2 separate regions of the Homo sapiens genome follow, and region 2 is linked to region 1. Evidence: fine-mapped expression QTL. A gene starts in region 1. The other region holds a variant in brackets. All regions are shown on one strand. Distances are from middle to middle.

Region 1 (12,246 bases):
CATCAAATCCCCAAAGTCCATTATATGACTTTGCATGTCTTTGCATCCTCACAGCTTAGCTCCCACTTACAAGTGAAAACTAAATGGTATTTGGTTTTCCATTCCTGAGTTACTTCACTTACAGTAATGGCCTCCAGCTCCATCCAAGTTGCTGCAGAACTTATTTTGTTCCTTTTTATGGCTAAGTAGTATTCCATGGTGTAAAAAATATAGAATTTAAAATACAGGAGATCCAACACAGGAAAGAGGCAAAAAGAATTCCACAGAATAACGAGGGGAGATCGGAGGATGAAATCAGTGCAATAGGCCTAGTACACAGCCAGGCCAGACTGGAGTACTAAAACGCTATGTCTCCAAGACAAATTGACAGATCCTCTGATGAGCTTGAAAGTATTGAGAGAAGGCCCATACTCTGGTGAAGAGTTTGGACCTGAATTAGTGATCCATACATAAAAAAACAAAGAAAATCTCCTAGCTTATTATATAGCTCAGTGATGAATAATGTTTTGTTTGTTTGTTTTTTTGAGACGGAATCTTTCTCTGTCGCCCAAGCTGGAGTGCAGCGGCATGATCTCGGCTCACTACACCTCTGCCTCCCGGGTTCAAGTGATTCTCCTGCCTCAGTCTCCCAAGTAGCTGGGATTACAAGCGTGCACGACATCCTACTGATTTTTGTATTTTTAGTAGAGACAGGGTTTCACCATGTTGGCCAGGCTGGTCTCAAACTCCTAACCTCAGGTAATCCACCTGCCTCAGCCTCCCAAAGTGCTGGGATTACAGGTATGAGCCACCGCGCCCGGCCGAATAATGTTTACATAATGAAAATAATGTCGGCGGGGCGTGGTGGCTCACACCTGTAATCCCAGCACTTTGGGAGGCGGAGGCAGGTGGATCACGAGGTCAGGAGATGAAGACCATACAGGCTAACACAGTGAAACCCCATCTCTACTAAAAAAAACCAAAAAATTAGCCGGGCCTGGTCGTGGGTGCCTGTAGTCCCAGCGACTCCAGAGGCTGAGGCAGAAGAATGGCATGAACCCGGGAGGCGGAGCTTGTAGTGAGCCCAGATCACGCCACTGCACTCCAGCCTGGGCGACAGAGCAAGACTCTGTCTCAAAAAAAAAAAAAAAAAAAAAAAGTCAATACAAATGACTAAATCAAAATTACTACATATATACTGGGGAGATAAAAGGAAAGGTGGGAAATGCATGTGCGTTTGTGTGTGGTGCAGAGAAGTGGTAGGACAGAAAAAATCTTTATTGTCCATAGAAGACAGTCAATAGATATAATTCAAAATTGACTGGGCATGGTGGCTCACGCCTGTAATTCCATCACTTTGGGAGGCCGAGGTGGGCAGATCACTTGAGCCCAAGAGTTCAAGACCAGCCTGGGCAACACAGTGAGACCCCATCTCTATAAAAAAAAAAGAAGACAGGCCGGGTGTGGTGGCTCACACCTGTAATCCCAGCACTTTGGGAGGCTGAGGAGGGCAGATCGTGAGGTCAGGCAATCGAGACCATCCTGGCTAACATGGTAAAACCCCATCTCTACTAAAAATACAAAAAATTTGGCTGGGCGTGGTGGCTCATGCCTGTAATCCCAGCACTTTGGGAGTCTGAGACGGGTGGATCACGAGACCAGGAGATCAAGACCATCCTAGCTAACACAGTGAAACCCCATCTCTACTAAAAAGACAAAAAATTAGCCAGTCATGGTGGCACGTGCCTGTAGTCCCAGCTACTTGGGAGGCTGAGGCAGGAGAATCGCTTGAACCCAGGAGGCAGAGGTTGCAGTGAGCCGAGATGATTGTGCCACTGCACTCCAGCCTGATGAGAGTGAGACCGTCTCAAAAAAAAAAAAAAAAAAAAAAAGAAGACATAATTCAAAATGGAAAACAATTAAAACAGTATGAGCATATTATTACAGAAATAAGGTGGTAGCTTCTAGAAGAAATAGTTAAAAGCTGTAAATGGCTGTTTCTTAGGAAGTGGGAATCAGACAGCCTGAAAGGGGATTAACTCTCATGCCTCCTGTTTTTTGTGAGAAACTTTGGCTTTTTTTTTTTTTTCTTTTTTGAGATGGAGTTTCATTCTTGTTGCCCAGGCTGGAGTGCAATGGCACAGTCTCGGCTCACTGCAACCTCCACCTCCTGGGTTCAAGCAATTCTCCTGCTTCAGCCTCCCAAGTAGCTGGGATTATAGGAGCCTGCCACCACGCCAGCTAATTTTTTTTTTTTTTGAGACAGAGTCTTGCTCTGTCGCCCAGGCTGGAGTGCAGTGGTGCAATTTTGCTCACTGCAAGCTCCGCCTCCCGGGTTCACGCCATTCTCCTGCCTCAGCCTCCCGAGTAGCTGGGACTACAGGTGCCTGCCACCACGCCCGGCTAATTTTTTGTATTTTTAGTAGAGATGGGGTTTCACCATGGTCTCAATCTCCTGACCTCGTGATCCCCCTGCCTCGGCCTCCCAAAGTGCTGGGATTACAGGTGTCAGCTACCACGCCCGGCTCTGTTTTTTGTATTTTTAGTAGAGACAGGGTTTCACCACGTTGCCCAGGCTGGTCTTGAACTCCTGATCTCAGGTGATCCGCCTGCCTTGGCCTCCCAAAGTGCTGGGATTACAAGTGTGAGCCACCACACATGGCCTGCCTTTTAAGCTATGTCAAGAATCAAACAGGAAGCCAGGTGTGGAGACATGCACCTGAAGACATAGCTACTTGGGAGACTGAGGCAGGAGATTGGGAGACTGAGGCAGGAGAATTGCTTGCACCCAGGGCTTTGAGGCTGCAGTGAGCTATGATTGTGCCACTGTACTCTAGCCTGGGTAACAGAGCAAGTTCTTGTCTCTAAAATAAAATAATAATTTAAAAAAATTTAAAGAATCAATCTGGAGGCCAGGTGTGGTGGCTCACGCCTATAATCCCAGTATTTTGGGAGGCTGAAGCAGGTGGATCATGAGGTCGGGAGTTCAAGACTAGCCTGACCAACATGGTGGAACCCTGTCTCTAGTGAAAATACAAAAATTAGCCGGGCATGGTGGCGTGCTCCTGTAATCCCAGCTACTCAGGAGACTGAGGCAAAAGAATTGCTTGAATTCTGGAGGCAGAGGTTGCAGTGAGCCGAGATGGTGCCACTGCACTCCAGCCTGGGCGACAAAGCGAGACTCTGTCTCAAAAAAAAAAAAAAAAAAAAAAAAAAATCAAACTGGAATAAAAACGAAAATAAAAACCCTCTAAAATCCACACATTATCATCTTATAGTAAATTTTAAGAACAAATATAAAAATGTATAATCTAAAATATTGGGCTGGGTGCAGTGGCTCACTCCTGTAATCCCAACACTTTGGGAAGCTGAGGAGGGTGATCGCTTGAGCCCAGGAGTTGAAGACCGGCCTGGGCAACATGGCAAAACCTCGTCTCTACAAAACAAACAACAAAAAAAAATTAGCTGGGCGTGGTGTTGAGTGCCTGCAGTCCCAGCTACCTGGGAGTCTGAGGTGGGAGGATCACTTGATCCCGGTGAGGCCAAACCTGCAGTGAGCCATGATTGCTCCACTGCACTCCAGCCTGGGTGCAAGACCTCAAAATAAATAAAATAAAACATTTTTTTCTTTCATCAATATAATCCATAGGTTCACATAATCTAAAACATCTAATGAGAAAAGGAGGTCACTTACAAAGCAGCAAGAATAAAAAAGAAATGCTGAAGAAAACAAGGAGAAAATACTGTAATTTTTCAATGTGTTGAAGGAAAAAAAATTGACTTAAATTTTACTACAAGGCTGAAATAAATATATTCTTAGTTTATCACACAAAGCCTCCTTTTGAAAACACTCTTGAAGTTCTCCAGAGAAACAGAAGGGGGAAAAAAAACCAACAAGAGATGGGAAGAATGAATAACTCAGTAAATGAAGTGGATTACTGTTTAAAAGGCAACAAGCCGATGGCATATCTGTTAACAATCCAGAAGTAAAAGTAGACGGTATTTTTTTTTTCTTTTTTTTGAGACGGAGTCTCGCTCGGTCGCCCAGGTTGGAGTGCAGTGGCGCAATCTCGGCTCGCTGCAACCTCCGCCTCCTGGGTTCAATCAATTTTCCTGCCTCAGCCTCCTGAGTAGCTGGGACTACAGGCACGCCTCACCACGCCCGCCTAATTTTTTGTATTTTTAGTAGAGATGGGGTTTCACTGTGTTAGCCAGGATGGTCTCAATCTCCTGACCTCGTGATCCGCCCGCCTTGGCCTCCCAAAGTGCTGGGATTACAGGCGTGAGCAGCCGCGCCCGGCCAACTAGATGATATTAACTAAAGGGGCAGTACGGAGGGAAGTGCCATGTGCTAAAATACTTACCTAATTAGGTAGCAGTGTTTAACTTAAGGATTTTATTGTAAACAACTATGAATGTATTAATTTATATATTTAATAAGTCACTCTATCCTGACTCCACATCTGTCTGTTAATCTTGTTCATAATATGACTCTTACTTGACCTTTATCATGAATCCCAAAACGGTCTATGATGCTGCGTCCATACACACACACACATAAAACCACTAAGTGGGCCTGGTGAAGTGGCTCACACCTGTAATCCCAGCATTTTGGGAGGCCTAGGCAGGAGAACTGCTTGAGGCCAGGAGTTTGAGACCAGCTTGGCCAACACAGCAAGACCCCATCCCAATAAATAAAATGAATAAATAAGTACATAAAAACACTGAGTGATCGAAAACTCCAACAGGGGGAACATTTTTCGGTCTTCTCCAAGAGACCCTGGGGCAATTTTCACCTCACGTCCCTAGTTCTGTCCTGTTACCCACCTAGGTCCGGGGCCCGGAGCCTACTCTCAGCCATGGAACTCTCCAGCTCGAGGCAATCGTCTCCTGAGAAAGGACATAACAGCAACTCAACCATCTTCACCAACCCTTGGAACTTCCATGCCTCCCGCCCACTACTGTCTCCCAAAACGCGCACAGAAACGCGACTCCTGGGAACAGCAAGACTCAACTCCATTCCGACCTACATCCCGCGACTCCCGCCAGGCTCTTGCCCCTCATGCCCTCCGCCTCCTTTCAGACTCCGTTCAGTCAACGGCCGTGACCTCTTGGCCACCTCCTGTCCATCTCAATCTCCATACATCCCTCCAGGCTGTTGTCCCCTACGTTCCTCTGCCACCTTCATTCCTCGGTCCCCTCAACTCCTGTGGCTCCTTCCCGGCCCCTATACCCTCCTCAGCTTCGGCACCTACCCGCTGGTCACTTCCTAAGCCCCCTCCACGACTCCGCACCTCGCCTCAGCTATTAACGACCCCTTCCGCCTTTCTTTCTCCCCTTCCCGGCATCCGTACCCTTTCCCGGTTCGCTCATCAAATGCCGGCTCCTTCTCGGCCTCCGTACTCCTTCCTCAGAGGCCTCCGTATTACATTCGCGAGCTCCATGAGCTCTTCCCGATTCCACAGTCCTGGTTATCTCAGGGCAGCTACAGCATCAATCTCTTGGCGTTTTCGGCCGCGGCTTCAGTTTAAATTTCCTGCCGGCTCCACCCCTAAAAGAACGCCGTAGCTGCGAGATCCGCCCTACGGTGTCCTTGGAAGGACAATATTAGTTTCGCGATTCCTCTTTCCGTTCCCCCACCGCCTACGTCTTCTCAAACCGTCTCTTCATTTCTTGGCTCTTCACTGGCTAGACGGCTTTGCCCCTTAATGGCCCTCAAGTTGAGGACTAGTGGTCGCTTTTTAGTGATTCTTCACACTGAGCTGCATTGAAATTCCTAGAAGTTTGAATACTAAATAACAAAATAAGCCTAACACTTGCAGAGCATTTGCAGTTTACATAAAGATTTCACTTACACATCATTTCATCTTCACATTTTTGTCCCCCTCCCGTTCTTCAATTATTACCTGCCCAACAAAACTTCTCAAAAGACGTATCTTTATCCCTCACTTCCCATCTTTTCTTCAACCCATCTAATTAGACTGCTAATTAGAGATCAAATTTGATCTAATAAGAGATCATTCAGTGGAGAGCTGGGGACCTCCCCACAAAAACTGTACTTATCCAGGTCAACTGTGATTTCCACAGTCTGAAATACTATCCTTATCATATCCAACTTATAGATGGACTATTCCTTCTTTGAAATACTTTCTTCTTTTTGCTTCCATGACTCAGCACTCTACCGTTTTTTTCCCTATCTCAATGGTTCCTCCTCAGTCCCCTTTGCTGGATCCAAAGCCACTGTTCACCTATATATTTTGGAGTATGCCAACGCTTTAGCCCTTATCCCTCTCCCTTATCTCCCTAGGAGATCTCATCCAGCTCCACAGCTTTACAATTCAGCTCTGCCACACCTTCAGATTTTCTGTAGCTCTGACCTGTCTGATCTCCAGACTCACATATTCAAGTGCCTACTGGCTATTTCAATTTGGATGTCTAATAGGCACCTCAGGCTGAACACATTCAAAACAGAACATTTGTTTCGCTGCCCCTGTCAAAAAACCACCTGTTCTCCCCCCAGGTCTTCCCCTCTCAGTAAAATGTTACTGTTTACTCAAATGTCACAATCATTCACCCAGTTGCTCAAACCAAAAACCTAGAAGTTGTCTTTCAGTACTTTCCCTTGTGCCCATCCCCACTCCAAGAAAAAAATCCTACTAACTCTGCCTCCAAAGTACATCTGGAATCAGACCACCACCACCCTAGTTCAAGCTGCTATCATTTCTTGCCTAAAGTACTGCGGTCAATTCTTCACTTCTACTCCCGAGTAGCTTCCTATCTCTCCCCAGTATAATCCATTCTCCATTCAGCAACCAGAGTGATAGTTTTTATATTTATTTATTTTTTTATTGAGAGGGAGTCTCGCTCTGTCGCCCAGGCTGGAGTGCAGTGGCGCAATCTTGGCTCACTGCAACCTTTGCCTCCCGGGTTCAGGCCATTCTCCTGCCTCAGCCTCCCGAGTAGCTGGGATTACAGGTGCCTGCCACCATGCCCGGCTAATTTTTGTATTTTAGTAGAGTCGGGGTTTCACCAGGTTGGCCAGGCTGGTCTCGAACTCCTGACCTCAGGTGATTCATCCGCCTCGGCCTCCCAAAGTGCTGAGATTACAGGTGTGAGCCACCGCGCCTGGCCCAGGGTGATATTTTTTAAACACTGGTAGAGGTATATACAGTACATAAACTTGGTATCTCTTCCAGTGGGACTCCTCCCTGAGGAAGCTTATACATCTCAGCCCTGATGAACGAACGAAGCCTTGGCCATATGACTTGCTTTGGCTCATGAAAAAAGAAAAAAGTGACATCACTTCCAAGCAGAAACTTTAAGAGGCAAGATGGTTCAGCATGTTCTTTTTTCACATGTGTGACAGAATTTGTATAATAAAGGTATCTGCCTCAGCATTGTTTGCAATACCAAAAGATCAAAAGCAACGAAAATATTGATTAACAACGGGCAGTAGGTTAAATAAATTATGGTGTAGTCATACTGTGCAACACTATGCAACTCCAAAAAATGAAAATACTTTAAAATATAAATGTATTTAGGGAATCCTAGCCAGAGCAATCAGCAAGAAAAAGAAACAAAAGGCATCCAAATAGGTAAAGAGAAAATCAAATTATCTCTGCTTACTGATGATATGATTCTATAGCTAGAAAACCATGAGGACTCCACCAAAAGGCTCCTAGACCCAATAAATTACTTTAATAAAATTTTAGGATTAAAAAAAAGTCAACACACAAAAATCAGTAGCATTTCTATACACCAATAACGTTCAAGCTGAGAGCCAAATCAAGAATGTGATCTCATGTACAACAGCCACACACACAGGCTGGGCATGTTGGCTCACACCTGTAATCCCAGCACTTTGGGAGGCTGAGGAGGGTGGATCACTTGAGGCCAGGAGTTCGAGACCAGCCTGGCCAACATGGTGAAACCCCATCTCCACTAAAAATACAAAAATTAGCCTGGAGTGATGGTGTGCAACTGTAATCCCAGCTATTCAGGTGGCTGAGGCACAAGGATCACTTGAGCCCAGGAGGCGAAGATTGCAGTGAGCCAAGCTCACACCACTGCATTCCAGCCTGGGTGACGAGACTCTGTCAAAAAAAAAAAAAAAAAAAGCGCCAGCCGGGCATGGTGGCTCACACCTGTAATCCCAGTACTTTGGGAGGCCGAGGCGGGCAGATCACGAGGTCAGGAGATCGAGACCATCCTGGCTAACATGGTGAAACCCCGTCTCTACTAAAAATACAAAAAATTAGCCAGGTGTGGTGGCTGGTGCCTGTAGTCCCAGTTACTTGGGAGGCTGAGGCAGGAGAATGGCATGAACCCGGGAGGCAGAGCTTGCAGTAAGACGAGATCACCCCACTGCACTCCAGCCTGGGCAACAGAACGAGACTCTGTCTCATTAAAAAAAAAAGAGCCACACACACAAAACAATCCCTAGGAATACATCTCACCAAGGAGGTGAAAGATCTCTACAAGAACTATAAAACACTGCTGCTGAAAGAAATAATAAAAGACACAAACGAATAGAAAAACATTCCATGATCATGGATTGGAAGAGTCAATATCATTAGAATGTCCATACTGCCCAAAACAATCTACAGATTCAGTGCTATTCCTATCAAATTACCAATGTAATTTTTCACAGAATCAGAAAAAAAAACTATTCTAAAATGCATATAGAATGAAAAAAAGAGCCTGAATCGCCAAAGCAATCCTAAGCTAAAAGAACAAAGCCAGAGGCATTACATTACCTGACTTCAAACTAAACAAGGCTACAGTAACCAAAACAGCATGGTAGTGGCATAAAAATAGACACATAGACCAATGGAACAGAATAAAGAACCCAAAAATAAAGCTGTACACCTATGAGTAATGGGGAAAGGACTCCCTGTTCAATAAATGATGCTGGGAAAACTGGTTAACCATATGCAGAAGAATGAAACTGGACCCCTACCTCTTACCATATACAAAAATTAACTCAAGGTGGATGAAAGACTTAAATGTAAGACATCAAACTAAAAATTCTGGAACAAAACCTAGGAAATACTGTCTAGATATCAGCCTGAGTCCTCAAAAGCAATTACGACAAAAAAAAAAAAAATTGACAACTGGCACCTAATTAAACTAAAGAGCTTCCAAAGCACAGCAAAAGAAACTATCAATGAAGTAAACAACCTACAGAATGGGAGAACATATTTGCAAACTATGCATCTGACAAAGGACTAATATCCAGAATCTATAAGGAACTTAAATAAATCAACGACAACAAAAAAACCTAATTAAAAAGTGGGCAAAGGCCAGATGCAGGGGCTCATGCCTGTAATCTCAACACTTTGGGAGGCCAAGGTAGGAGGCTTTACTTGAGCTCAGGAGTTCAAGGTCAGCCTGGGCAAAATAGGGAGGCCCATCTATATAAAAATTTTTTTAAATTAGCTAGGCCTGGTGGCATATGCCTGCAGCCCCAGCTACTTGGGAGGCTGAGGTAGGAGGATCACCTGGGCCAGAAGGTCAAGTCTGCAGTGAGCCAAGATCATGCCACTGCACTCCAGCCTGAACGACAGACCAAGACCTTGTCTCAAAAAAAAAAAAAAAAAAAAAGGCAAAAACATGAGCAGACATATCTTAAAAAAAGACATACAAGTGGCAACAAACATGAAAAAATGCTTAATATCATTGATCATCAGAGAAATGTAAATTAAAACCACAATGAGATACCATCTCATACCAGTCAGAATGGCTACTATTAAAAAGCCAAAAGATAATAAATGTTGGCCAGTCTATGGAGAAAAGGTAATGCTTATATACTGTTGGTGAGAATGTAAATTAGTTCAGCCCCTGTGGAAAGCAGTGTGATTTCTCAAAGAACTAAAAATAGAACTATCATGTGACCCAGCAATCCCATTACTTGGTATATACCCAAAGGAAAATAAACCATTCTACCAAAAGGACACCTGCACTATGTTTATTACCACACTATTCACAGTAGCAAAGACATAGAAACAACCTAGGTACCCCGTGAATGGTGGATTGGATAAAGTAAATGTGGTACATATACACCATGGGATACTATACAGCCATAAAAAATAATGAAATTGCTGGGGGCAGTGGCTCACGCCTGTAATCCCAGTACTTTGGGAGGCCGAAGTGGGCGGATCACTTGAGGTTGGAAGTTCGAGACCAGCCTGACCAACATGGAGAAACCCCATCTCTACTAAAAATACAAAATTAGCCGGGTGTGGTGGCGCATGCCTGTAATCCCATCTACTCGGGAGGGTGAGGCAGGAGAATAGCTTGAACCTGGAAGTCAGAGGTTGCGGTGAGCTGAGATCTTGCCATTGCACTCCAGCCTGGGCAGCAAGAGCAAAACTCAATCTCAAAAAAAAAAAAAACATCATGTCTTTTGTAGCAATGTGAGTGTAGCTGGAGGCCATTCTCCTAAGCAAATTAGCACAGAAACAGAAAACCAAATATTGCATGTTCTCACTTTTAAGTGGGATCTAAACCCTGGATACACATGGACATAAAGATGAGAACAATAGACACTGGGGACTCCAAAAGGAGGGAAGGCTGGAGAGAGGAAGGTGGGTAATATGTTCACTATCTGGGTGATGGGATCACTCGAAGCCCAGGCCAGGTGTGGTGGCTGATGCCTGTAATCCCAACACTTGGGACACCAAGGCCCGAGGATCACTTGAGCCCAGGGGTTTGAGACCAGCCTGGGCAACATAGGGAGAACCTTTCTCTACAATAAATAAAATAAAAAATTAGCTGAGCATTAGGTATGCACCTGTGGTCCCAGCTATTGGAGAGGCTGAGGTGAGAGGGTCGCTTGAGCCCAGGAGGTCAAGGCTGCAGTGAGCTGTGATTGCCCCACTGCAGTCCAGTCTGGGCAACAGAGGGAGACTCTGCCCCAGCCCACCCTGCCCACCCCCCACCGACAAGCCCAAATTGCAGCATTGCACAATATACCCTTGTGACAAACTTGCACATGTACCCCCAAATCTAAAAGTTAAATTTAGGCCAGGAGTGGTAGCTTATGCCTGTAACCCCAGCACTTTGGGAGGCCGAGGCAGGCAGACTGTTTGAGACCAGGAGTTCGAGACCAGCCTGGGCAACACAGCAAGACTCTGTTGCTTAAAAAGAAAAAAAAAAAAAAAGAAAGAAAGAAAAAGAAAATAAGGAAGTAAGAAAGAGAAAATAAGAATAATTGAAAATGAATTAGCTAAGTGTTCAACTTGAGAAGTCAGAAAAATGAACAAAACAGTGAGCCCAAAGGCTGTAGACAGTCAGAAATAGCAAAGGATAGAAATTAATGAAATGGAAAAGAAAAAGTAGATTCTTAAAAATCAATGTGGAAAAGACAAATAACACAAAAGAAAAATACGGGCAATACAAACATGAGACATTTTAAGGGCTGATAAACATAAAGCATGCTACGACTCACTAATAATTAGGAAAATACCAATTTAACAATAATTAAATGCCACTTCATAACTTTTGATCTGCAAAAATTAATGTGTATTAAAACCAAATTCTAGTAAAAATGCAAAGAAAAGGGTGGGGTATAAAACTGGGGCAAACCTTGGGAGAGCAATTTAGTACCCAATAAGGTACCTGCCCTTCAGTCTAACACTCTTCTAGGTTTATCCTGGGCCGGTGGTCTCCAAAGAAAGGTGTGCCTTGGCCAGGCATGGTGGCTCATGCCTGTAATCTCAGCACTTTGGGAGGCCAAGGTGGGCGGATCACTTGGGGTCAGGAGTTCAAGACCAGCCTGGCCAACAGGATGAAACCCCATCTCTACTTAAAAAATATAAAAATTAGCCAGGCATGGTGGTGTGTGCCTGTAATCCCAGGTACTTGGGATACTGAGGCAGCAGAATTGTTTGAACCAAGGAGGCAGAAGTGGCAGTGAGCTGAGATGGCCCCACTGCACTCCAGCCTGGGTGACAGAGCAAGACTCTCCGCCCCCCACCCCCCCGCCCCGGCCAAAAAAGAAAGGTGTGCCTCAGGTACAAGATGATTACAAAGGTCAGGCATGGGGACTCACACCTTTAATCTCAGCACTTTGGGAGGCTGAGGCAGGTGAATCGCTTCAGCCCAGGAGTTTGAGACCAGTCTGAGCAACATAGTGACACTTCATCTCTACTAAAAATTAAAAAAAAAAATTAGCTGGGTGTGGTGGTGCATGCCTGTGGTCCTAGCTACTCAGGAGCCTGAGGTGGGAGGATCAGTTGAGCCCAGGAGGTGGAGGCTGCAATGAGG
Region 2 (12,246 bases), 44 kb before region 1:
ATGCTAGGGGACCACAGGTTGCTGAAGAACAAGATTGGAGGCAGGAAACCCCTTCCTGGGTCCTCTGCTTCCGCAAGGACCCAGGGCCTCTGCTGGGGATGAGGGAACTGCCTCTAGCTTGTGACACCCCCACCCCCCGCTCTATTTTAGGCCCAGGAGAGGTGAGAAGGCGATTTCCCAGGAGGCGCTGACATCAATGTAGGGAACCAAGTGACTCCCCCCACCCCCAACCACCTGCCATGCCAGGCCCAGATGCTCAGTAAGGCTGAGCCAATTCTTCCTTCGCTCTGGAGACATCTTGAGAACCTCCTCCAAGATGTAGGCATGAGGAGGCTCCTGGGAATGAGGGCCTACTAGGTGGTATTCCTGGAAACTCATCATGAGCCCAGAGGGAGAGATTGTGCTCCCCATTTTACAGATGGGGAAACTGAGGCTCTGAGAGGTTATGTGAGCTTCTCAAAGTCACACAGCTGGTGAAAGGCACATCCCATACTCCATGGCCCCACTCCTCTTAGCCACCCCTAGTCCTACTTCCATCTCTGCCCTCCATTTGGGACCAGAGGGGACTGGTATATCTGGTCCCATGCACCCTCACCACACACCCCAGACACGAAGGTGGCTGTCCTGCTCCAGCCTGCCCATGTCCCAGGGCCACATCAGCAAGTCCCGATCAGGAGTGCCCCCCAGTAGGCTGGGTGAGGTTTGTCATTTCACAGTGCGAGCCCGGGGCTGGGAGAGTCTGGGTCCTCCAACATGTTCAAGACCACAGAGCAAGCCCAATCTGTGGTCCAGGCCTCTTCACCAGAGGCATGTTCCTACCACATCGGTGGCCCTGGGACCCTAGACTTCCTGTTGGGGAGACCTGATGAGCCCTAAGAGTGACTCTCCCTGGTGGCACCCTGGGCTAGTTCCAGTGGAGACTCGGTCATATGGCTCCCTGGCCCCCATAGCCACTTATATTCCTGGGTTCCCCGGCTCCCAGCAGATCTGGCTAGAACTTACTTTTTTTTTTTTTTTTTTTTTGAGACAGAGTCTGGCTCTGTCGCCCAGGCTGGAGTGCAGTGGCACGATCTCGGCTCACTGCAAGCTCCGCCTCCCGGGTTCACGCCATTCTCCTGCCTCAGCCTCCTGAATAGTTGGGACTACAGGTGCTCGCCACCACGCCCAGCTATTTTTTTTTTTTTTTTGTATTTTTAGTAGCGACGGGGTTTCACATGTTAGCCAGCATGGTCTCGATCTCCTGGCCTCGTGATCCACCCGCCTCGGCCTCCCAAAGTGCTGAGATTACAGGCGTGAGCCACCGCACCCGGCTAGAACTTACTATTTTTTTTTTTTCTTTTGGAGAGTCTCGCTCTGTCACCCAGGCTGGAGTAAAGTGGCAAGATCGCGGCTCACTTCAACCTCCACCTCTGGGGTCAAGTGATTCTCTTGCCTCAGCCTCCCGAGCAGCTAGGACAACAGGCATGTGTCACCATACCTGGCTAATTTTTTGTATTTTTAGTAGAGATGGGATCTCACCATGTTGCCCGGGCTGTTCTCACCCTCCTAAATTCACCATGTTGTCCAGGCTGTCCTCAACCTCCTAAATTCAGGCAATCTGCCTGCCTCCCAAAGTGCTAGGATTACAGGTGTGAGCCACCATGCCTGGCCTAGAACTTTCTTTTTTTTTTTTTTTGAGATTGAGTTTCGCTCTTTTTTTTTTTTTGAGATGGAGTCTCGCTGTGTCACCCAGGCTGGAGTGCAGTGGCGCCATCTCGGCTCACTGCAAGCTCCGCCTCCCGGGTTCATGCCATTCTCCTGCCTCAGTCTCCCGAGTAGCTGGGACTACAGGTGCCCAACACCATGCCCAGCTAATTTTTTTGTGTTTTTAGTAGAGACGGGGTTTCACTGTGTTAGCCAGGATAGTCTCGATCTCCTGACCTCGTGATCCACCCGCCTCGGCCTCCCAGGGTGCTGGTGGGATTACAGGGTGAGCCACCACCCCCAGCTGGAGTTTCGCTCTTGTTGCAATGGCATGATCTCGGCTCACCGCAACCTCCACCTCCCAGGTTCAAGCAATTCTCCTGCCTCAGCCTCCCGAGTAGCTGGGATTACAGACATGTGCCACCATGCCCAGCTAATTTTGTATTTTTAGTAGAGATGTGGTTTCTCCATGTTGGTCAGGCTGGTCTCGAACTCCTGACTTCAGGTGATCCACCCACCTCGGCCTCCTAAAGTGCTGGGATTACAGGCGTGAGCCCACCGCACCCAGCCGATCTTTTTTTTTTTTTTTTTTTTTTTTTTTGAGATGGGAGTCTCACTCTGTTGCTTAGGCTGGAGTGCAGTGGCATGATCTCGGCTCACTGCAATCTCCTTCTCCTGGGTTCAAGTGACTCTCCTGCCTCAGCCTCCCAAGTAGCTGGGATTACAGGTGTGCACCACCACGCCTGGCTAATTTTTGTATTATTAGTAGAGATGGGGTTTCGCCATGTTGGTCAGGCTGTTCTCAAACTCCTGGCCTCAAGCAATCTGCCTGCTTCAGCCTCCCAAAGTGCTGGGATTGCAGGCAATAGACCTTATTTTTTAATTTTTTGAGGGTCTCGCTCTGTTGCCCAGGCTGGAGAACAGTGGCACAATCATAGCTTCCTGTAACCTTGACCTCTTGGGCTCAAGTCATCTCCTGCCTCAGCCTCCTGAGTAGCAGGGACTACAGGTGGCGTCACCAAGCTTGGCTTTTTTTTTTTTTTTTTTTTTCAGACGGAGTCTTGTTCTGTTGCCCAGGCTGGAGTGCAATGGTATGACCTCGGCTCACTGCAACCTCCTCCTCCCACCGGGTTCCAGCAATTCTCCTGCCTCAGCCTCTCAAGTAGCTGGGATTACAGGTGTGCTCCACCATGTCTGGCTAATTTTTGTATTTTTAGTAGAGATGGGGTTTCACCATGTTGGCCAGGCTGGTCTTGAACTCCTGACCTCAAGTGATCTGCCCACCTTGGCCTCCCAAAGTGCTGGGATTACAGGTGTGAGCCACCGTGCCCAGCACTTTTGTATTTTTTGTAGAGATTGGGTTTCATCATGTTGTCCTGGCTGTTCTCAACACCTGGACTCAAGAGCCATTCAAGGCCAGGCGTGGTGGCTCAAGCTTGTAATCCCAGCACTTTGGGATGCTGAGGCGGGTGGATCACGAGGTCAGGAGATCGAGACCATCCTGGCTAACACGGTGAAACCCTGTCTCAACTAAAAATACAAAAAATTAGCCAGGCGTGGTGGTGGGCGCCTGTAGTCCCAGCTACTCGGGAGGCTGAGGCAGGAGAATGGGGTGAACCTGGGAGGCAGAGCAGCCTCCCAAAGTGCTGGGATTACCAGGCATGAGGCCGATGCTTGGCTAACAAAATTTCTTTTTGTAGAGACGGGGGTCTTTTTATGTTGCCCAGGCCAGTCTCGAACTCTTGAACTCAAGTGATCCTCCAGCCTCAGCCTCCCAAAGTGCTGGGATTAGATTACATCTGTGAACCCTGGCACCCGGCCTCGGCTAGACCTCTTGCCTCTCCCTTGATCACAGTCCCCAGTCCCTGAGGTTCCACCTCCCCTGTCTCATGCTTGCCTCAGCTCTCTTAGGAGCTGTGGGATCCCCACACAGAAAGCTTGCTTCACGTTCTTTCACCCACCGTCCCTCCTGAGGTCAGGGCTGTCTGTTTTCTCATTGGTGGCCCTTCATCAGACTGGGACTTCAGAAGAGCAGGGCTTGTCCTCCTCATCAGACCTGACCCTGATAGCAAGGGCTGTTTTCTGCTTAGATCGGGGCAGGCCTGTGTCTCCCCCTCAAACATAGGGTTCCCTGGGGGGCCCCACCTCAACTTCATAGCTATGGCTGGCTCCTTCGGTCCATCCATTGAGGCTGGGGCCACTATTTCTGCTGCCCTGATGCCACTCTTGGGGTTGCTCTTGCTGAGGGAGCTGTGGGGCCCTGAGGGGTGGGTCTCTGGCCTCCCTTAGGAAGCCCCTTCCCTAGGAGGCCGGAGCCTCCTTCCTTCTGCTGCTCTTCTAGCTCTTTAGCCGGTTCTCTCAAATTTTCCTGCATAAGGGCCAAGTTGGGGATGCAGGGCCAAGACCTTGTCTCCGCAAC[T/G]CCAGGTAAGGGAGAGGTCCTGGTTGCCCCCAGCCCTGGGGTGATACCACCGGCAGTGATTCCTGCCAGTGGAGGCCGTCCAGGCCTGGTGACCAGCCTTAAGTCCTGCAGCACAGACCATGCTAGTCAAGGGGGCAGGATTCAGGTCTCCAGGCTGGGGTCCCAATCCTGCCTCCCCCACAAACTGGCTGTGTGACCTTGAGCAAGCCCGCTGGCCTCTCTGGGCCTTGGTTTCCTCATCCACGACACAGGGGTTAGAAAACCACCCCCCTCACAGTGCTCCTCTCGGGGATGATGGCTGAGCTGCCCATGCTTGGAGCAGCGTCTGGCACATGAAAGGGGCTCAGTCACCCTGGGCTCGCACCGTCCAAGGCGCCGAGGAGCAAACCGGCTCCCTGGCCCTTGCCCAGGACCCCAGGCCTCTCTATGGCTTGGGGTCCTCGGGGTCCTCTCTCTACCCAGCACAGAGAGAACCTGTGCCTGATGTCGTGATGTGGAGGGGTGGCAGCAGGGGAAGTGCCTAGCATTTGGACAGGAAGTTCATCCTGCTTCCTCTTAGATGCCAGCCCAGGGTCCAAGGACCGTTCTTCTCATCTGCATAGCTCTCCCGGGAAACCTCATGCTCCTCCCTCTCAGGCGTCCAAGTGGCCCCTCTTTTAATCTCTGAAGCTCTCAGGCTTCACCAAGGGAGGAGTTGGGGGCACCTGGGGCACCAGGATCCCAGGCACACTCATCCTTTGGGAGGTCTGTGGGGCACAAATACAGTCACACCCATAAGGGCCCAAGTGCCACTTCTTTTCCACAAAAGGGATCCTCCTGGAGCTCAGGAGAGGGCCCTTGGGAGGGGGCCTGGGACAGGGGGTCTCACAGTGCCCCTCAGCAGCTTCATCCACAAATGCTCACCCGAGATGAGGACGCCAGTTACCAAGGGACACTGCCAGGTGGGAATTAGTGAGAATAAGCTTTATGTAAGTTTAGGAGGGAGGCCTCACAGGCATGTGTGCCTGTGGGTAATATGTTATTTGTTGAGACAATGTGCCAAGCTCTGTGCCACATACCTCACAAACACATCTGATTTCACTCTTGTGATTTCCTAGCGAGGTAGCAACTATGATTATCTCCATTTTTCGTATTTATTTATTTATTTATTTATTTTCGAGACAGTCTCGCCCTGTTGCCCAGGCTGGAGTGCAGTGGCACAATCTCGGCTCACTGCAACCTCTGCCTCCCAGGTTCAAGTGATTCTCCTGCCTCAGCCTCCCGAGTAGCTGGGATTACAGGCATGCCAGCATGCCCGGCTAACTTTTGTATTTTTAGTAGAGATGGGGTTTCACTATGTTGGCCAGGCTGGTCTCGAACTCCTGACCTCAAATGATCCGCCCGCCTCAGCCTCCCAAAGTGCAGGGATTACAGGCGTGAGCCACCGTGCCCAGCCTAGATTACCTCCATTTTTTAGATCAAGAAAACAGTTTGAGCTGGGCACAGCTGAAACTCCCCTGGGAAGGGGAGCCAAGATCCAGGATGAGAAGGAGTGCTCGGGTATACAGCACTCCTGCTGGTGGCAGGATAGGGAAAGACATAAAAGATTTGCTGGCAGTCACAGTATTTTATTATTGGAAAGGGTCCTGAAATCATCTCATCCAAGCCCCTTACTTAAAGACGAGGAAACTGAGGCCCGAGTAATAAAGGCATTTTTCTGAGGTCACAGTGAGTTGGAGGCAGCTAGCTCCTGCATTCCACCCAGCAGAAGGGAGTTGGGGTGGAGCTACCAATCGGTCACATCTGCCGAGAAGTGAAAGGCTCAGCGAGAAGAGGCAAGAACAAAGGCCTGGGGACCTAGTCTGAGTAAAGTAGTTAGGGCTGGAGGGCTCTTCAGGTGTCTCGGAGCTGACTCAGGGCAGACGGCAAGGCCTGTGCTGAATGAACGAACGAGGGAATGGGCAATGGTGAGGAAGGGCAGGGGGACAGGAGAACCAGGCCACTGAGGGGCTGCTGCGACCAAGGGAGCCAGGCTTCAAGGAGGAAAGAAAGGAGAAAAGGAACCAACTTTGGTCACCAGTAGCCTGTCCATGACCTTGGAATAGATGATCTTAGTGGAATGCTTCAGGCAGAGCTACCCAGGAAGGAAGTGTGGAAGGGAAGGAGGTGAAGAGGAGGCGGTAGGTATAGACCGCAGGAAGGAGCCAGAGAACAGAAGGTGGGAGCCTTCAAGTATTTGAAGTCGATTTACTGAATCAACTCAAGTGTTTTCCAGGAGAGGAGCATGGCATTTTGGGGCAGAGGGGAAAGGTGGCAAGTCTGAGAAGGAAACCAACAAGAGTGGTTGGCGAGGTGGGCTGGAGGGCCAGGGACAGACAGTGTGACTTGTGGAGGGAGGACACCTCTTCAGAAAGAAACGGCAACATGTTGAAAAGGGACTGACTGCAAGATAAGGCAATGCCCACTGGGTCTGGGTAAAAGTCATCTGGTGCGATGTGGAAAGGGGGCTGGAGTGGAAAGGAGTCTGAGCAGTGCTCACGCCAAGGAGCCACTGCGGGACCTCATTCACATCAAGCAGCACCCATCCATCCTGGGTCAAGTCTCAGGTGTTCTGGGTTCACCTCTAACCTGAGTCTACAGCCAGGAAGCCGCAATGGAGAAATGGCTGAGGAGTGTTCCAGCCTTGGGGTTTGGCCTGGCAGAGATGTCCAAGGTCATGATCATTGAGATAGGAGGGGAAGGCAAGGGTACACGGATGTGAGGTTCGGGGAATGGGTCCTGCAGTTGACAATGAGGGCACCCGAACCCGGCACCACAGGCTTTGTGTGAGCAGCAGGTAAAGGTATCCAAGTCTGAGACAGGGGCAAGGGGAAACTTCCTCATGCAGAGGGGTGGTGTCATGGGGAATGAGGCAACCCCATGTCACAAAAGGAAAGGGACGAACCCAGCAGCGTGCAGACATAAGCCACGGTCTGGCTTCAGGGAAGAGGAGTGGGCCCTTAACAGGAATGTCCGCCGGGGCAAAGGAGTTTTCTTGGGAGGGATGGAGGGGCATGTCCTCTGCAGGCGACCACTCCCCAGGCAGCAGAGCCAAGGAAGTGACCAGATGAGACTGGGTAAAGGAGGCTGGGCAGGGACAGAGGCAGCCCTGCTCCCTGGAGCCCTTGGGCAAGGCCGGCAGGAGGGTTGTGGCACTCACACATGTGTGACTTGCAGGAGGTCCCATCACACCATCTAGTGATTCTGTCCATCGCTGCTGGCCCGCAGCCCTGCCTTGGGTCACTGGAGGGCAGATCAAGGACCGACATATGGCATTCCAGCCCCATCTCTTTGCTATTTGTAATTAACAAATTTATTTACATTTCCTGAACCAAAATTAATTGTAAAATTTAACAGGAAGGGGGTAACATGACCTCTAAGGTGGGCTGTACACATAGTTGCTCTATTTCCAAACTAATAACTTGAGTCCTCACCCATAGCTGGGCCCCCCCTTCTTCCTTTGAAAGGAGACACAGAATAGCATCAGGCTTCCGGAAGCTTCAACATTTAAAGAGACAACTCTTTAAATGCACGGACGCAGAGAAGGGTGAGAAGAATCACGGTACAAATTGTAATGAAAGAAAAAGTGGCCAGAGAATCGATAGCAAACCCATTTCTGTCTCCAGATTAATGGCTTGGCTGCCAGAAATGGGGGGAGGTCCTTGGGGAAGGAGAGGAGGGAGCGAGGGAGGAGGGTGATGTGGAAGTTGGCAGGTGACACACTGGCCCCGGAACAGCCGAACTTCGGGCAGGCAGCTCAAGCTGAGGAGGCAGAGAAGGGGCGAGAGGGGTCCCAGAGGGGGCTCTGGCCACATCCTGGGCTCAGGGGAAAGGTCAGTGCTGGGCCCCAACTAAGTGCCTGGGGGAGGGAGCTCTGTGAGTGGTGCAGCCCAAGCCCCTCCTCTGCTTCATATGTTCCTGAGGATCTGTGTGCGGGAGCGTGGGGGGCTGGGGGAGGGGACAAACACAGTCATTTTGGAAAGCAGGAGCGGCCACATGCTCGTGAGAAAGGAGGCCGGGGTTGGGGGTGGAGCACACCAACAGCTAACCCGCGGCTCTGCAGAGAGGCAAGGGCCTGTGGAGGGCCAGGAAGCCGGGCCAGGACTCCTGCTGCCCCAGCTCCTTTGTGGTCCCTCCCCATGCCAACTTCGCCTCTGCCTCCTGGCGTGGGCGGCCAGCCTCAGCTGGGCAAGCCCACTGTAGACTCTGCCTGGTCAGGAACATGGCAGGAGGCAGGGGTAGGAGAGGGCAGCCCCCAGCCCAGATTCTCTCCCAAAGACCTGGCCAGTGGGAGGGGTGGCTCTGTCAGCTCCATGGAGCTGAGCGTGACAGCTGCTTGCTGGACTTCAAAGGCCAGGCCCGGGCCTCCTTCTAGCTCTTTTGGGGAAGTCCTGGGGTTCTGCCCCTCCTGCGTCCTGGTCAGCCCTGGCCGGGTGTGCAGCACCCAGCAGAGGAGTAAGTTGTATCTGTGGCCCTTCAATCTGGAGCTGCCTGGCCCTGTGAAGAGCCAAGCACCTTGGGGACTCGTAGGAGCAGCTCTCTGCCAGCATGGGGCTGGGGCTGGGGCTGGGGTTGGGACCAGGGCTGGGAGACAGGGAGACAGGGCACCTGGAGAGGCTGGGGGGCCCAGAGGCATCGGGAACAGCTGGCTCCCGCACTGGCTGGCAGGGGCTGCAGGAGGGAGGTAGACCTGCTCTCTACAGGTGCTCCCGAGGGCTGCACACTGGTAGCTGAGTACAGGGGAGCTGATGGCCAGCCTGGAGCTGTGGGGCAGCTGAGGAGCTGGCCAGCCTCCTGGGATACAGGGCCAGTGGCTGTACACTCAGAATCCTCAGGCCCTGGGGGCCACCCTTTCCCCAGCCAGGAGGGCTGTGTGGCCCAGAACTCTGCTGGTCTGTCTGTGGGCTGCCAGGGGAAGGGGTCTGGGAGAGAGAGGCAGGTCTGTGAGTGGCACAAGGGCTGGAGGGAGGCGAGGAGCCTGGACTCATGGCCTGTAAGGGGAAGAGAGGGAAGACGCTTGCCACTAGTTGTCCTGGTGCCGCAGGGGTTGGGGGCTATTGGGACAAAAAATGAAGCCTGTGGCCAGGAGGCCCCCACTCTCTTCTTAGCACTGCCACTGGGGAACTGAACCTTCCGCTTGTGGCCAAAAAGTGCCAGGTCTGGGCCAGAGGAGAGTTCCATAAAACCAGAGCTAGGCAGGAGGCATTGGCAAGCAGGGCTCCTGGACACTGGTATCCCTGGGGGGTCCACAAACACATCAACTGACACCCCCAGGTCCTGGCAGCTTGCTATAGGTCCAGGTACCTCACCAGTCCCTGCACGTTCAGCTGGTGCCTGCGTGCTGTCCACTGTCCCATCCTGCTCTGGGATACCTGATGCCTGGCAGCTGTCTTCTTTCCTTATCCTGGGAGATGCTGCCCTGGGATGGGAGGGCTGATGGGGGTGCAGAGTCTCAGGACAGAGAGGGTCACAATCAGAAGCTGGGGAACCTGACCACCTGTTGGGACAGAAACACTGTGAGCTGCAGGTTTCAACTTCACAGCAGGCCTGGGCCAGGGCTGAGGGCACAGGGAGAGCTGCCACAGCTGGCGGTTCATGTGCCGAGAGAGCTGCCTTCTCTGAGGCCCTGTGTGAAAGTCCTCCTGTTTGGGTCTAACCTGCCGCAGCAACCAGCACTGTGTGCACTTCTCTTGGCTCTGCAGCCTGTGGTTGGGGCCGGCCAGAGGAATAGGTTAGAGGCTATTCCATTTCATGACTTCACAGAGGAGGCTGTGCCCTTTGGCAGCTGAAGAAAGCAGCGCAGTGCCTGGCTGTGCAAGTTGAGCTTGAGGTGGAGATTTGGGGTGAGAGGTGAAGCCACAGCCCCAGGTGGGAGAGGGTCTGCCTTGCTGGCAGCAAGGGGAAGCAGGGCTCAGAGGGCCCTGGAATTCCCACCAAACCCCATGCAGTCCTTCTTTCTGGGGGTGACTTCTACAGAGGGGAAAGACTTTGCTTTTCACCTATCTAGGAGAGGCCCAAGCACTAACCCCCTGCTCCCTGGCCAGAACTGCTTATCAACCACATCAAAGCCTGTGGAGTTGGAAGGGAGCCACAGTGTAGTCTGGGTCTAGTCTTCATCAAGTGAAGCCACAAATGGAGGTCTTTTTATTTTTTTTGGCCAGCCCCAAAACAAACAGGACTGAGGATAAGGGGAAAGGAAGGTGAGAAAAGAGGAAAACATCACAGTCTGGTCCCAGCAGCCACCAACCTGAGGGTCTCTTCCCACCCAGAGGGCAACAGAGGAGAGAGCAGACACAGTTGTGCCTGCCAGCGTGGCACTCACCTGGGGAGGCCAGCCTGGAAAGGGATGTCTGCAAAGCTGTGGCTGAGCTGAGCAATGATCCTGTCCACTTCTGCATATAGATGGGCTTCCAGGGCAAAGCTCCGGTGCTGGGCACTCTGAAGATGCTGCCGGCGGGGGAGAGGAGCACAGGGCATTAGATGAGGCCTGGGGGGAGGGGGACACGGAAGCTGACCTCCCAGCCCATGCTCTGGCCCTGGAGGACAGCCATAGCAGCATAGAGATCGCATAGGAAGGACTCATCCCCAGTGAGCAGGCTCCCTCAGGGCACTCTGGGAGCAGCTGCTTAATGGGGAAGGGGCTCACCACATGGAGCTCCTCGAAGGCCTCCTGACAGCACTCGCAGTAGCCTTTCTTCCTCCTGGGCATGGTGTGGGCAGCTGATCGTGGGCTTGGCTCTCCATCCTTGGATTCTCTGGGGAGGGTACATAGTGCGGCAAAGTGGTTACTGCTGGGGCCCTTGGGGGGAGGAGCCACTACTTAGAGCCTGGAGCCTAGGTCAGGGAGGGGAAGGACCAAGATGGCCAAGGGGCTGTGCAGGCACCGGCAGGCAGGCCTTCCCTGAGCTTGGTACCAATCATCTAAGAATGGCAAGAGGGGAACAAGGAAGAAGACGTCTGGAGACCTCCCTGTGGGCAGCCTGTCTTATCTCTGTCCTCTCTCTCTTTTTTTTTTTTTTTTGAGAGAGTCTAGCTTAGTCACCCAGGCTGGAGTGCAGTGGTGCGATCTTGGCTCACTGCAATCTTCACCTCCTGGGCTCAAGCCATTCTCCTGCCTTAGCCTCCAGAGTAGCTGGGATTACAGGCGCCCGCCACAATGCTCAACTCATTTTTGTATTTTCAGTAGAGACGGGGTTTCACCATGTTGGCCAGGTTGGTCTCAAACTCCTGACCTCAGGTGATCCACCTGCCTTGGCCTCCCAAAGTGCTGGGATTACAGGTGTGAGCCACCGCGCCAGCCATCTCCGTCCTTCTCTTAAACGACAGGTGAAGATGGGATGGTGACGGCAGCAGCAAGAATCCCTTGTAGGAATTCCAACTCTGTGCTCAAACCTACACCCACATTCATGAGACCTGAAAGATGAAAGGGAAAAGGTCTCAACCACAGTGAAGGGACTGCTCTTCTTTTCCACCCTGAATGTCTCCCCAGCTTGGTTCAGTCTGTCCCTTCTCTCATGCTGCCTTGGATCTCTCACAGCTGTCCTCACTGTCCGCTAGGATTTTCAAACCTTCCTCAAACCTGACTTCTTTTTTTTTTTTTTTTTTTGAGATGGAGTATCGCTCTGTCACCCAGGCTGGAGTGCAGCAGCATGATTTCGGCTCACTGCAACCTCCACCTCCTGGGTTCAAGTGATTCTCTTGTCTCAGCCTCCCGAATAGCTGGGATTACAGGAACACACCACCACGCCTGGCTAATTTTCTTTCTTTTTTTTTTTTTTTTTTTTGTATTTTTAGTAGAGACAGGGTTTCACCATGTTGCCCAGGCTGGTCTCAAACTCCCGACCTCAGGTGATCTGCCCACCTCAGCCTCCCAAAATGCTGGGATTACAGGACTGAGTCACCACATCCGGCCAAGCCTGAATTCTTATCTGAATATCAGCCCCATATTTCTAACAACCAAAGGGCATTTCTATCTGGCTGTCCAGCAAACTCGACAAGTCCAAAACACTCCTTTTAAAGACTTCCTAAGTATGACACAAACCCCAGAAGATATACAGAAAAACTCATAAATTCAGCTATATACAACTTTAAAATATGTATGCATGGCAAAGAATCATTAGCAAATG

What was found.
Region 2: its variant is fine-mapped to the expression of DBF4B in whole blood (INTERVAL, PIP above 0.99).

The regions. Positions count from the first base shown.
Region 1 is chr17:44,701,927-44,714,172 of GRCh38, reverse strand. It overlaps DBF4B (DBF4B-CDC7 kinase regulatory subunit), which reads right to left and starts at 5,508. Exons shown (of 14, transcript NM_145663.3): 1 at 5,334-5,508; 2 at 4,807-4,869. The coding sequence starts at 5,352. RefSeq lists enhancers at 4,674-5,187, 5,188-5,702.
Region 2 is chr17:44,745,712-44,757,957 of GRCh38, reverse strand. It overlaps DBF4B (DBF4B-CDC7 kinase regulatory subunit), which reads right to left. Exons shown (of 14, transcript NM_145663.3): 11 at 10,767-10,875; 12 at 10,443-10,567; 13 at 9,493-9,617; 14 at 5,694-7,363. The coding sequence ends at 6,705. Among named protein-coding and RNA genes, the nearest start is that of ADAM11, 7.2 kb to the left of the region's middle. RefSeq lists an enhancer at 4,398-4,898. The variant T/G (reference allele first, on the strand shown) is at 4,103.